2 separate regions of the Homo sapiens genome follow, and region 2 is reported to be linked to region 1. The links are microRNA targets in miRTarBase. Many come from high-throughput screens and were not tested one by one. Region 1 holds a microRNA gene; the other region holds the end of a gene's coding sequence.

Region 1 (4,395 bases):
CCCTTCTAACTGTTTCACTTGTATAGAAAAAGGAGGCAAAGGAAATTTTAAGAGGAGTTTGGAACCATTTCAAACAATTTCCTCAATGTTCTGCTTTATTGTATTTCAGTATAATGAAGTACTGTACCCCCAGTACAATGTACTCTACTTCTTCTGTACTTGTACTGAGTAATCAAGTGACTCCTGGGATGATAGGTACTATCAAACGAAAATACTGTATTTAAACATTGCTAAACTGTCAGTTCAACTTTAGACGCTCCCATTCAATGACCAGGAACTTGTGGATCATATAAAGGTAGGTTTATTAAACATGCTAAGCAGGAGAGAGCAGCACCTTGACAGAGACTCTATCGTATCTCAAGTGGGGAAATTTAAGGAAGGCTACGTGTAGAGTTTGGGGGCAGTTGTTAGTTATAGAGTTGTTTTAGGGCAGAAGTTAGTAAGTGAGGCCTAGGCAGATATTGGTAGAATTTGTAAATTAGGCAAGTGGAAGTCTTATCTTTGGAATGTGAGTTCATTAAGACAATATTAAATCAGTTTCTCTGTGCTCTAGAACATATGGTCTGAAAGGAGCTTGTGTTAAACATTTAAAGTTGTTTGTGGCCAGTTGCGGTGGCTCATGCCTATAATCCCAGCACTTTGAGAGGCCAAGGCAGGTGGATCACCTGAGGTCAGGAGTTCGAGACCAGCCTGGCCAACATGGCAAAACCCTGTCTCTACTAAAAATATAAAAAAATGAGCTGGGTGTGGGGGCACATGCCTGTAATCCCAACTGCTCAGAAGGCTGAGGTAGGAGAACTGCTTGAACCCAGGAGGCGGAGGTTGCAGTGAGCCGAGATCACGCCACTACACTCCACCCGGGGAGACAGAGCGAGACTCCTTGTCAAAAAAAAAAAAAATAAAGTTAATTTGTATTGTATGTCATGATTTGACACAATTTACCTGTGTTGTAATTCATAATATAGTTTTGCTGGTTGTAGGTAGTTTTTGTTTTATTTTACAAAATAAACGTGTAAACAGCCTGTATAGCACACATATTTATTTATTTATGGATCTTAAAAAATTTAAACTGCATCCTATTATCTAAAAAATTAATAATTGGTAAATTTTATTCATACTCTTTTCAGACAATATTCAAAATGTTAAGCCTTGCTGGGTGCCTGTGTATCTGTACCTATGTTATATACATTATTCTTTTCCTCTGCTACTATGGTTTATTCACTCTGAGAACACATAATACTAACAGTAAAATGTCTTTGACATTTTATATTGTATTTTGAACAATTTCATGTTCATCCTAAATAAATATTTGTTTCTACCCCACATTGCCTAGAAAGAATTTGTGCTCCCTCAACTACCAGAGCGTTATATGCTCTTTAGTAGTATCACTAATGTTTTGGAAAAGAGTCAAAATTTTCAGTGCTGTTTTAGAATGCTTATTTAAAGGTAAAGAGATTTTTCAGAGAAAGAAACCTTATATAAGAGAACTCTCACAATGATAATGTAGTAACAGGGAACTGCTGAAGGCTACATGGAAATCCTTTATTTAAAACAAAAAATTAGAATAAAAGCCTTTCTACAGCTGGAGAGTCGACGACAGTCTTCCATGGTAAATTTTAATCTGAAGGCTTGTAGAATAAGATAAACCTATCAAAAAGCCCTTCCAAGGGATAGGCAATATTTGCCTTTTTAAAATTAAATCTTACCTGCTTTTACTGAGATTTATTATTCATTAGATAATGGCCATTGTTAGCCATAGTTTTACATTTTAAATTGCCCTTTATGAAACTTACATCAAAAAGATTCTTATTTTCCACTGATCTCTAACAATATAATTTACAATTCAAATTGAGAGAATCTCCTCATACTCCATCCCTTTGCCTTCTGTGGCCTCATTAAATAATCATAGTAATAGCTACCATCTACTCAGTATATTCCTTGTGCATATATTTGGCCAGCATGAGTTCGTGAACTTCTCACAACAACCTTGAGAGCTGTGCAGAGTTATTGCCTCTGTTCTAACACAAGACTAGGCTTCCCTGTGTTAGAATAGGGGCAATAACTCTGCACTGCATTGCAGCCACCCACCCATCTAAGGAGGAAGTCCATGCTCTTTCCATTCTGCCATGCTGCCTTAAGCCAAAGCAATTCATATATAAATGGTTTCATATTTTTTGTTCCCCATGTTTAATTCTAGATACTATGCAACCTAAGTCCTAGACAAAAAATTACAACTCCACAAAAACTTTTTGAATGAAATTTTTATAACTTTTTACTGCTAGTTATTCAAATAAACAATTGTCATAGCTCTCAATATCAGAACTGAAAGAGACAAATAATTTCAACTAATCCTCTGACTTTACTAGGTTCTACTTATGAGGAAGTCAAAATGATAGTACAGTGTGGAAGAATTCATGAACCAATAGACAACTTTCAAAAAATGTATGTCCCACCTAATCAGAATATCTATTTCAAGCCAATTATTTTTCCATTTAAACTCAATCAGAAAATGTATTTTGAGGTGATTGCTTTATCAGATTTCTACATTTTGCAAGCCAAATAATCATATAACCTCTAAGATGATATTATAAGTTCCATCTATCATGACCAGGACATTTGTTTTGCTTTCTAAGACCTAAGCAGACCATATAGCTGCTCTGGTTTCATGTTTGGGGGTATCCTCCTAACCTTTGTATGTCCTTTCTCTCTTTTTTCTCCAGGACTGCCCACCAGAAGCAGGTGATTTCCGAGCTCAGCAATGCTCAGCTCATAATGATGTCAAGCACCATGGCCAGTTTTATGAATGGCTTCCTGTGTCTAATGACCCTGACAACCCATGTTCACTCAAGTGCCAAGCCAAAGGAACAACCCTGGTTGTTGAACTAGCACCTAAGGTCTTAGATGGTACGCGTTGCTATACAGAATCTTTGGATATGTGCATCAGTGGTTTATGCCAAGTAAGTGCTGATTTGTTCTCATTCAACTTGTCCAGAGGGTTTCAATGTCTTTGTGTAAATGGTTTACATAGTCTCACTCTCTGAATCACTCATCTTTACACTTTTTAGAGTTTGTAAATGGTGAAAGATTTGAAAATTAAGGTATGATTTCAGTGAAAAGTACCAAGTGTTGTATTGTGCGAAGGAAAAGTAGACTAGAGTTATTTTTCTTTCCTTGAGTGTCACTTGAATATAAAAGAATAAAAATTTTTGAATAGTGTTTATCAATTATGTACTAGACTTTGAAATTATCCCCTGGATTGGCTATTCCTGAAGTGTGTGTTTGTGTTTGTGTGTGTGTGTGTGTGTGTGTATTTAGAGACTGGATTTTCATTGACTCAGTTTCAGAATAAATCAGGTAAGACCAATTCTAAAATCCCCAAGTAAACTGTAGGAAAACTTGCTACTTTACTATAATTTCCATTGTATTGAAAATTCAGACACACTGTAGAGAAAGTCATGGAAGAGCCAGCTAGGTTGGACTTAAGCCAGTTAAATCTTTAAAACAGGATTACAAAAAGGTTTGATTTCTGGTATCCATCCATTCATCAATGTCTACTCTAGGTAGGGAATTAGTAAGGTGAAAAAGGGTTTGTATGTTTGTCATGTCTTTGCCATCTTTATTTTCAGGTCCACTTTTTGGATTAGGATTACCAGTCTAGTTTTTGGAGCAAGCAGTTGCTATTGTTTTTCTGTGTGCTGTATTTGACTATATGCTTTTATATTTCATGAAGCAGACACAAAATTTTGAGAGTATTTGCCTTTTCCAACATGGTGTCAGCTGAAATTTTCTCTCTTCAGAATGTATAATATCACGGCTAGGAATGTAAGAGAAATATATGTTTTAGTAATTTGTTGTTTCAAATTTATTTTTTTAAAACTTACATCTATATTTGGATGTAAAGGCAAAAACTGTAGTGTAAATGACTATAAGAGATGTGAGATGTCAGGCAAGGTTTTATGCATGCAAGAGGGAAACAAACATAGTCAACCTTCCTAAAGTTTAAAATCATGAGGCAGAGAAACTGATGTCATATAGGAGTTTGTCACTGATGAAACATATCTTAAGGTTTCCTTATATACAAGAGATATATGAATTTCAGGTGTAAATTTGAATGTGGAATTTTACTATTTTAAAGCTAGAAAGGGCCTTAGAGTTATTCAATCAACATTCTAAAAAGCAATATATCTGAATAAATCATTTCTGATCTTTGCTATTTACTTCCTCCTCTAGGACTCTTAGTGGTAATGAAATGGAATTAGGGAATCTGAAAAATCTTTAGGAATAGTAGAGAATTGTAAAGCAAATAGATTTAGAAAGGGGACTGTGTTGTAGGGAATGGCAAACAAAAGAATAATAACTCCCTATGTATGTATACTGTTTGAGTAAAAGCAAGGA
Region 2 (4,395 bases), not on the chromosome of region 1:
AGCTGGGTCCTATTCTTCTTCTTCCCATTTTACAAATGAGAAGACTGAAATTTAAGAAGAATGAATAACTTATTCAAGATTATATAGCTAAGTGGTAGAGCAGAGATTTGAAGCAGCTCAGAACTGCCTGCCTGTCTGTGAGGCCCCCGCTCCTTGGTCAACAGATTGAATTGCCTCTTGTATACAGGCCAACAAGGAGGGCAGTGGGGACCCTGCAGCAGGCTGCTGGTCCATCTAAGGAAGGCTTCCTGGGGGAATGGGTTGGTCTCTGTGGCAGCTGCTCCCAGTAGGCAACCCTGGGCTCTGTGTGCATCCACAGGCAGCTGTCAGAAGACCTGCTTCTCACGCGTGAGGCCCTGGAGAAGGAGGTGCAGCTGCGGCGACAGCTCCAGCAGGAGAAGGAGGAGCTGTTGTACCGGGTCCTTGGGGCCAATGCCTCGCCTGCCTTCCCTCTGGCCCCTGTCACTCCCACTGAGGTCTCTTTCCTCGCCACATAGGGTGCAGGGCCTGGGCCCACCACGACGCCTGAAGTCACAGCTCCTTCCAAGGTTTTTCTGGAGAAGACAGCAGGAGCCTCTCAGTTCTTTTCCAGGAAGGAACGAGGGTGGGAGCGAGATGGAGATCCTGGGTGTGTGCCCAGTGAGCCCTGGGGCCTTGAGTTACATGGAATCACCCACAGGGTTTTGGAGGCCCCGAGAAGCGTCTTCCCTTGAGTTGGCCAAGGGAATAAGCAAGAGGAGACATTTCCTCCCTGCCCCAGCACTCTGTCCCAATCCGAGAAGTTCCGAGGCTTTCCCAGGGGCAGTCTGTGTCACGCTGGCCATTTGACATAAAGGAGACAGCCCCTGGTCCCAGCTTGTCAGCTCTGCTGCCGACTTGCTGACTTATCAACTTCCTCTAGGTGTTTCCACTCCACCCTGGCCTGCTCAGAGCCTCAGTTTACCCCTGCATTAAAATGGTGGGGGGACTGGTCAAAGGACTCTTATGTCACTGCAGTGTCCCATTCTAGGATTGTCTGAAGGCCAGAGTAGGGGTTGGGGGGAGTGTGGACAAACCCCGCAAATCAGAGTGGGGAAGGTGAGTGGTAGAGAGGGGGTCTCTGAAGGCCCTTGGGGCTGACAGGGCCAGGCAGCCTCCCCAGCTGAGGCATCATTCCTGGGCCAGAGTCGTGTCCACCAAGGGACAGTAGCCAGAGCTCCTCTTCCTTTACCAGGCAAGGTGCATCCCCTCAGCCCTCCTGGCCCTTCAGTCTTGGTGCCACCTGGGCACAGGGGCAAGCTTGGTGGTTGTGAGTCCATTCATCTATCAGAGCTGGAACCTCATCCCTGCACAGATGAGGAAACCAAGGCATGGAGCAGTTCCCAGAGTCGAATCTAGATCTCATCTGTCATCCGGGTCTTATCCTTTGCTCTGTTTTTCTCTTCAGGCTCTGGAAAATCAGATCTGTGACTTAATCTTCCTCTCCCTGGCCCTCACCCACTTAGTTTCTTTTTCATTCCTGCTCCCTGCCTTAACTCCTCCTCCCACTGCCCCTGATCCCAGGCCCAGGCTTTTACAACCTGGTGCTCAGCTTCCCCATCAGTGAAAAGGGGTGGCTAGAGTAACTAACCTCAGCAGGCCGTCCAGTCCTGATAGTCTGTGGATTTCGGATCCTTCTCAGGAAGCTTCATGTCTAATGGAGACTATAATTATAACTCCTGTTCTGCATAGAGCATTTGCATCAAAGGCTTTCCATACCCCTCCCTCCCCTGGTCCTCATAAGATCCTTGAAGCAGGTTCCTATTCCTCATTGGCAACATGGCAAACAGATCACAGGAGTCAAAGGGCCTTGCTCAAGGTCCCCAGCTTCAGCCCCAGGCCCTAAGCCAGCGTCAGAACAGTCAATCTGCATTTTTCATCAGTCATTCTATAGTGACATCATCCCAGACTGCCTTCTGTATTCCCCTGTGTACAGTCTCCTTCTGTTTCTAGGTTTAGAAGTTCAGAGGTGACTGTGTTTCTCCATTTCCACAGCCAAATGGGGGAAGAGGTGAGGCTAGGGGAGTGCTGTGCTGATTCTCCAGCCATGGTCAGACAGGTCACCCAGGAGCCTCGAGGAAAGCCCTGGAGGGAATCACATGTGTACTTTTTCATGAAGCTTTTTGCAAAGCACATCTGCGATACACTAGTTTATTGAACTAATGTCCAGGAGTAGACATGATTGGTGGCCAAGTTATTTGGGGACACCTAAACAGATCAGTGACCTGAATGACTTCTCAGAACCTTTAATATGCCAATGTGTGTGGCAAACTTACAAGAAGGGAGCTAAGTATCCAGCCTCTCCCAAACCTCTTTGAACAAAGCTTCTGTCCCTCCCACACCTCTCACCTCACAGGCACATCAGGCTGCAGAATGCGCTTTAGAAAGCATTGTTTTAGTCCAGGCACAGTGGCTCACGCCTGTAATCCCAGCACTTTGGGAGGCCGAGGTGGGTGGATCACAAGGTTGGGAGATTGAGACCATCCTGGCTAACACAGTGAAACCCTGTCTCTACTAAAAAAATACAAAAAATTAGCTTGGCGTGGTGGTGGGCGCCTGTAGTCCCAGCAGCTTGGGAGGCTGAGGCTGGAGAATGGTGTGAACCCAGGAGGCGGAGCTTGCAGTGAGCCAAGATCGCGCCACTGCACTCCAGCCCGGGTGACAGAGCAAGACTCCGTCTCAAAAAAAAGAAAAGAAAAAAGAAAGCATTGTTTTAATTGAGAGGGGCAGGGCTGGAGAAGGAGCAAGTTGTGGGGAGCCAGGCTTCCCTCACGCAGCCTGTGGTGGATGTGGGAAGGAGATCAACTTCTCCTCACTCTGGGACAGACGATGTATGGAAACTAAAAAGAACATGCGGCACCTTATTTATGTGACTTTTGTGTTTTTCTGGGAGGGTGGGGAGGTGGGTCTTCACAAGGACTTCTGCCAATGGTGGGGATCTCTGAAGAGTAAATCTGGGGCCTGGGTAGCCCACTCGTGGTTCTGGGCACTCTCCTCAAGCACCAAAGCCCCACTGGCCCTTGCTTTGCCCTAATTGTGGATGTGGGGCCTGGGGCTAGGGTGAAGCCTGGATTAAAGGATGGCCTTCAAAATAGACCAAGGCTTGGAGTGAGGCTGAGGTTGAAGTAAGTGGTGAAAACAGAGGGATGGGGTGGGAGAGACTGCGAGGATGAATGAGAAGTCACCTTCTGCACTGCAGGACCCCTCTTTGGCATCAGAAACACTGATGTTCCCACAGGTACCTACCCCTGATTCTGCCTATTGCTCCACATCCAGATGCCTGTGGCCAGGGAGGGAGCTAGGAAGGGGTAGAGGAGACACGAGGACCTCGAGTCACGTGGACATGGGTGGTGGCCAAACCAGTGCCCTGAAGGTTGGTGGCCCAGCAGGTGTAGACACCAGCATCCCTAGCCCAGGTCCCCTCCACATACAGGGTGCCCTCTGCCTCCTGCTGTACCTGGCTCTCCCCGTGTACCACATGGGCCTGTTCACTGATGTAGAGTGGTTGGCCCAACGGTAGGGGATAAAAACGGACTGTCCATCAGCTGCCCCAGGTGCATCTCTGACTCACACACCAGGGTCAGGTAAGAGGCACCATTTATCTCTTTGGGGAAAGGAGAAGTGACTTGCCCAAGGTCACACTTCAGCTTGGTGTCAGAGCACCTTAAAGGCCAGGTTCTTTGTGAAAAACGTTAAGCTTCTCAAGTCTGCAGAGAAAAGCTGGGTTTCCCTCCCCTTCTCAAAGAGTGTCCAGAGGTAACTCAGTCCAGGGAAGTACTTCCCAACGTGGGTTTTGTGGCCCTCTGCTTCTGTAGGGATGCTACCTCCTCAAAGGAGAGGAAGAGGAAGAATTTTACTACCAAAAGTGTTTTGGAAACATTAAGAAAAGCAAAGTGAAATTGGGTAGACTCCGACCACTGAGTCTGTTACATGTACCTGTGTATTTTGAATCTCCAAGACAGGTAATGGTTATAAGAGGAAGTGAGGTAGGGTGGGAGGGAACTTTCTGGTATTCCACCCTTCTAAAGAACATGTTGGGGAAATCCTGGTAAAGCCAAGCCAGTGTCTCCTGACCGTCTGTATGCTCCTTTCCCCTTCTTGGGTCTCAGTTTCCTCTTCTGACAAGTGGGAGAATGATCCTTTACCCTTTCCAATGCCTAAGGCCTCTGTGGAGTTCACCTTTATCACATCCTTGCAGCCACTGCAGGGAATGGAGAGATGAACTCGGGAAGTCGCTATGTGCCAGCTCAGGCTACACAAATGACTGGAGCGAGGTGGAGCCAGAGTGTTTTAAGTTCGGGGGGAACAGGGCACCCTCACTGGGTTCCACAGGGCACCCTCACTGGGTGCCACTGGCCTCCTTTTCAGGGCTACTGA

Evidence for each region. Region 1 holds the annotated microRNA hsa-miR-3152-3p (UGUGUUAGAAUAGGGGCAAUAA, at 2,041-2,062, shown strand). A microRNA usually pairs through its seed, bases 2 to 8, with sites in the 3' UTR of a target mRNA and lowers its output. Matches are read on the target gene's strand: a 7mer-m8 pairs with bases 2 to 8, a 7mer-A1 pairs with bases 2 to 7 and ends in A, and an 8mer does both.
Region 2: the mRNA of CCDC69 is a reported target of hsa-miR-3152-3p. Seed matches in the 3' UTR shown: 8mer at 2,508-2,515.

Annotation. Positions count from the first base shown.
Region 1 is chr9:18,571,310-18,575,704 of GRCh38, forward strand. MIR3152 (microRNA 3152) reads left to right here and starts at 1,997; the gene lies at 1,997-2,070. ADAMTSL1 (ADAMTS like 1) reads left to right here. Exons shown (of 29, transcript NM_001040272.6): 4 at 2,721-2,957.
Region 2 is chr5:151,179,539-151,183,933 of GRCh38, reverse strand. CCDC69 (coiled-coil domain containing 69) reads left to right here. Exons shown (of 9, transcript NM_015621.3): 9 at 320-2,882. The coding sequence ends at 497. It also overlaps the pseudogene PDGFRL2P. Among named protein-coding and RNA genes, the nearest start is that of ANXA6, 24 kb to the right of the region's middle.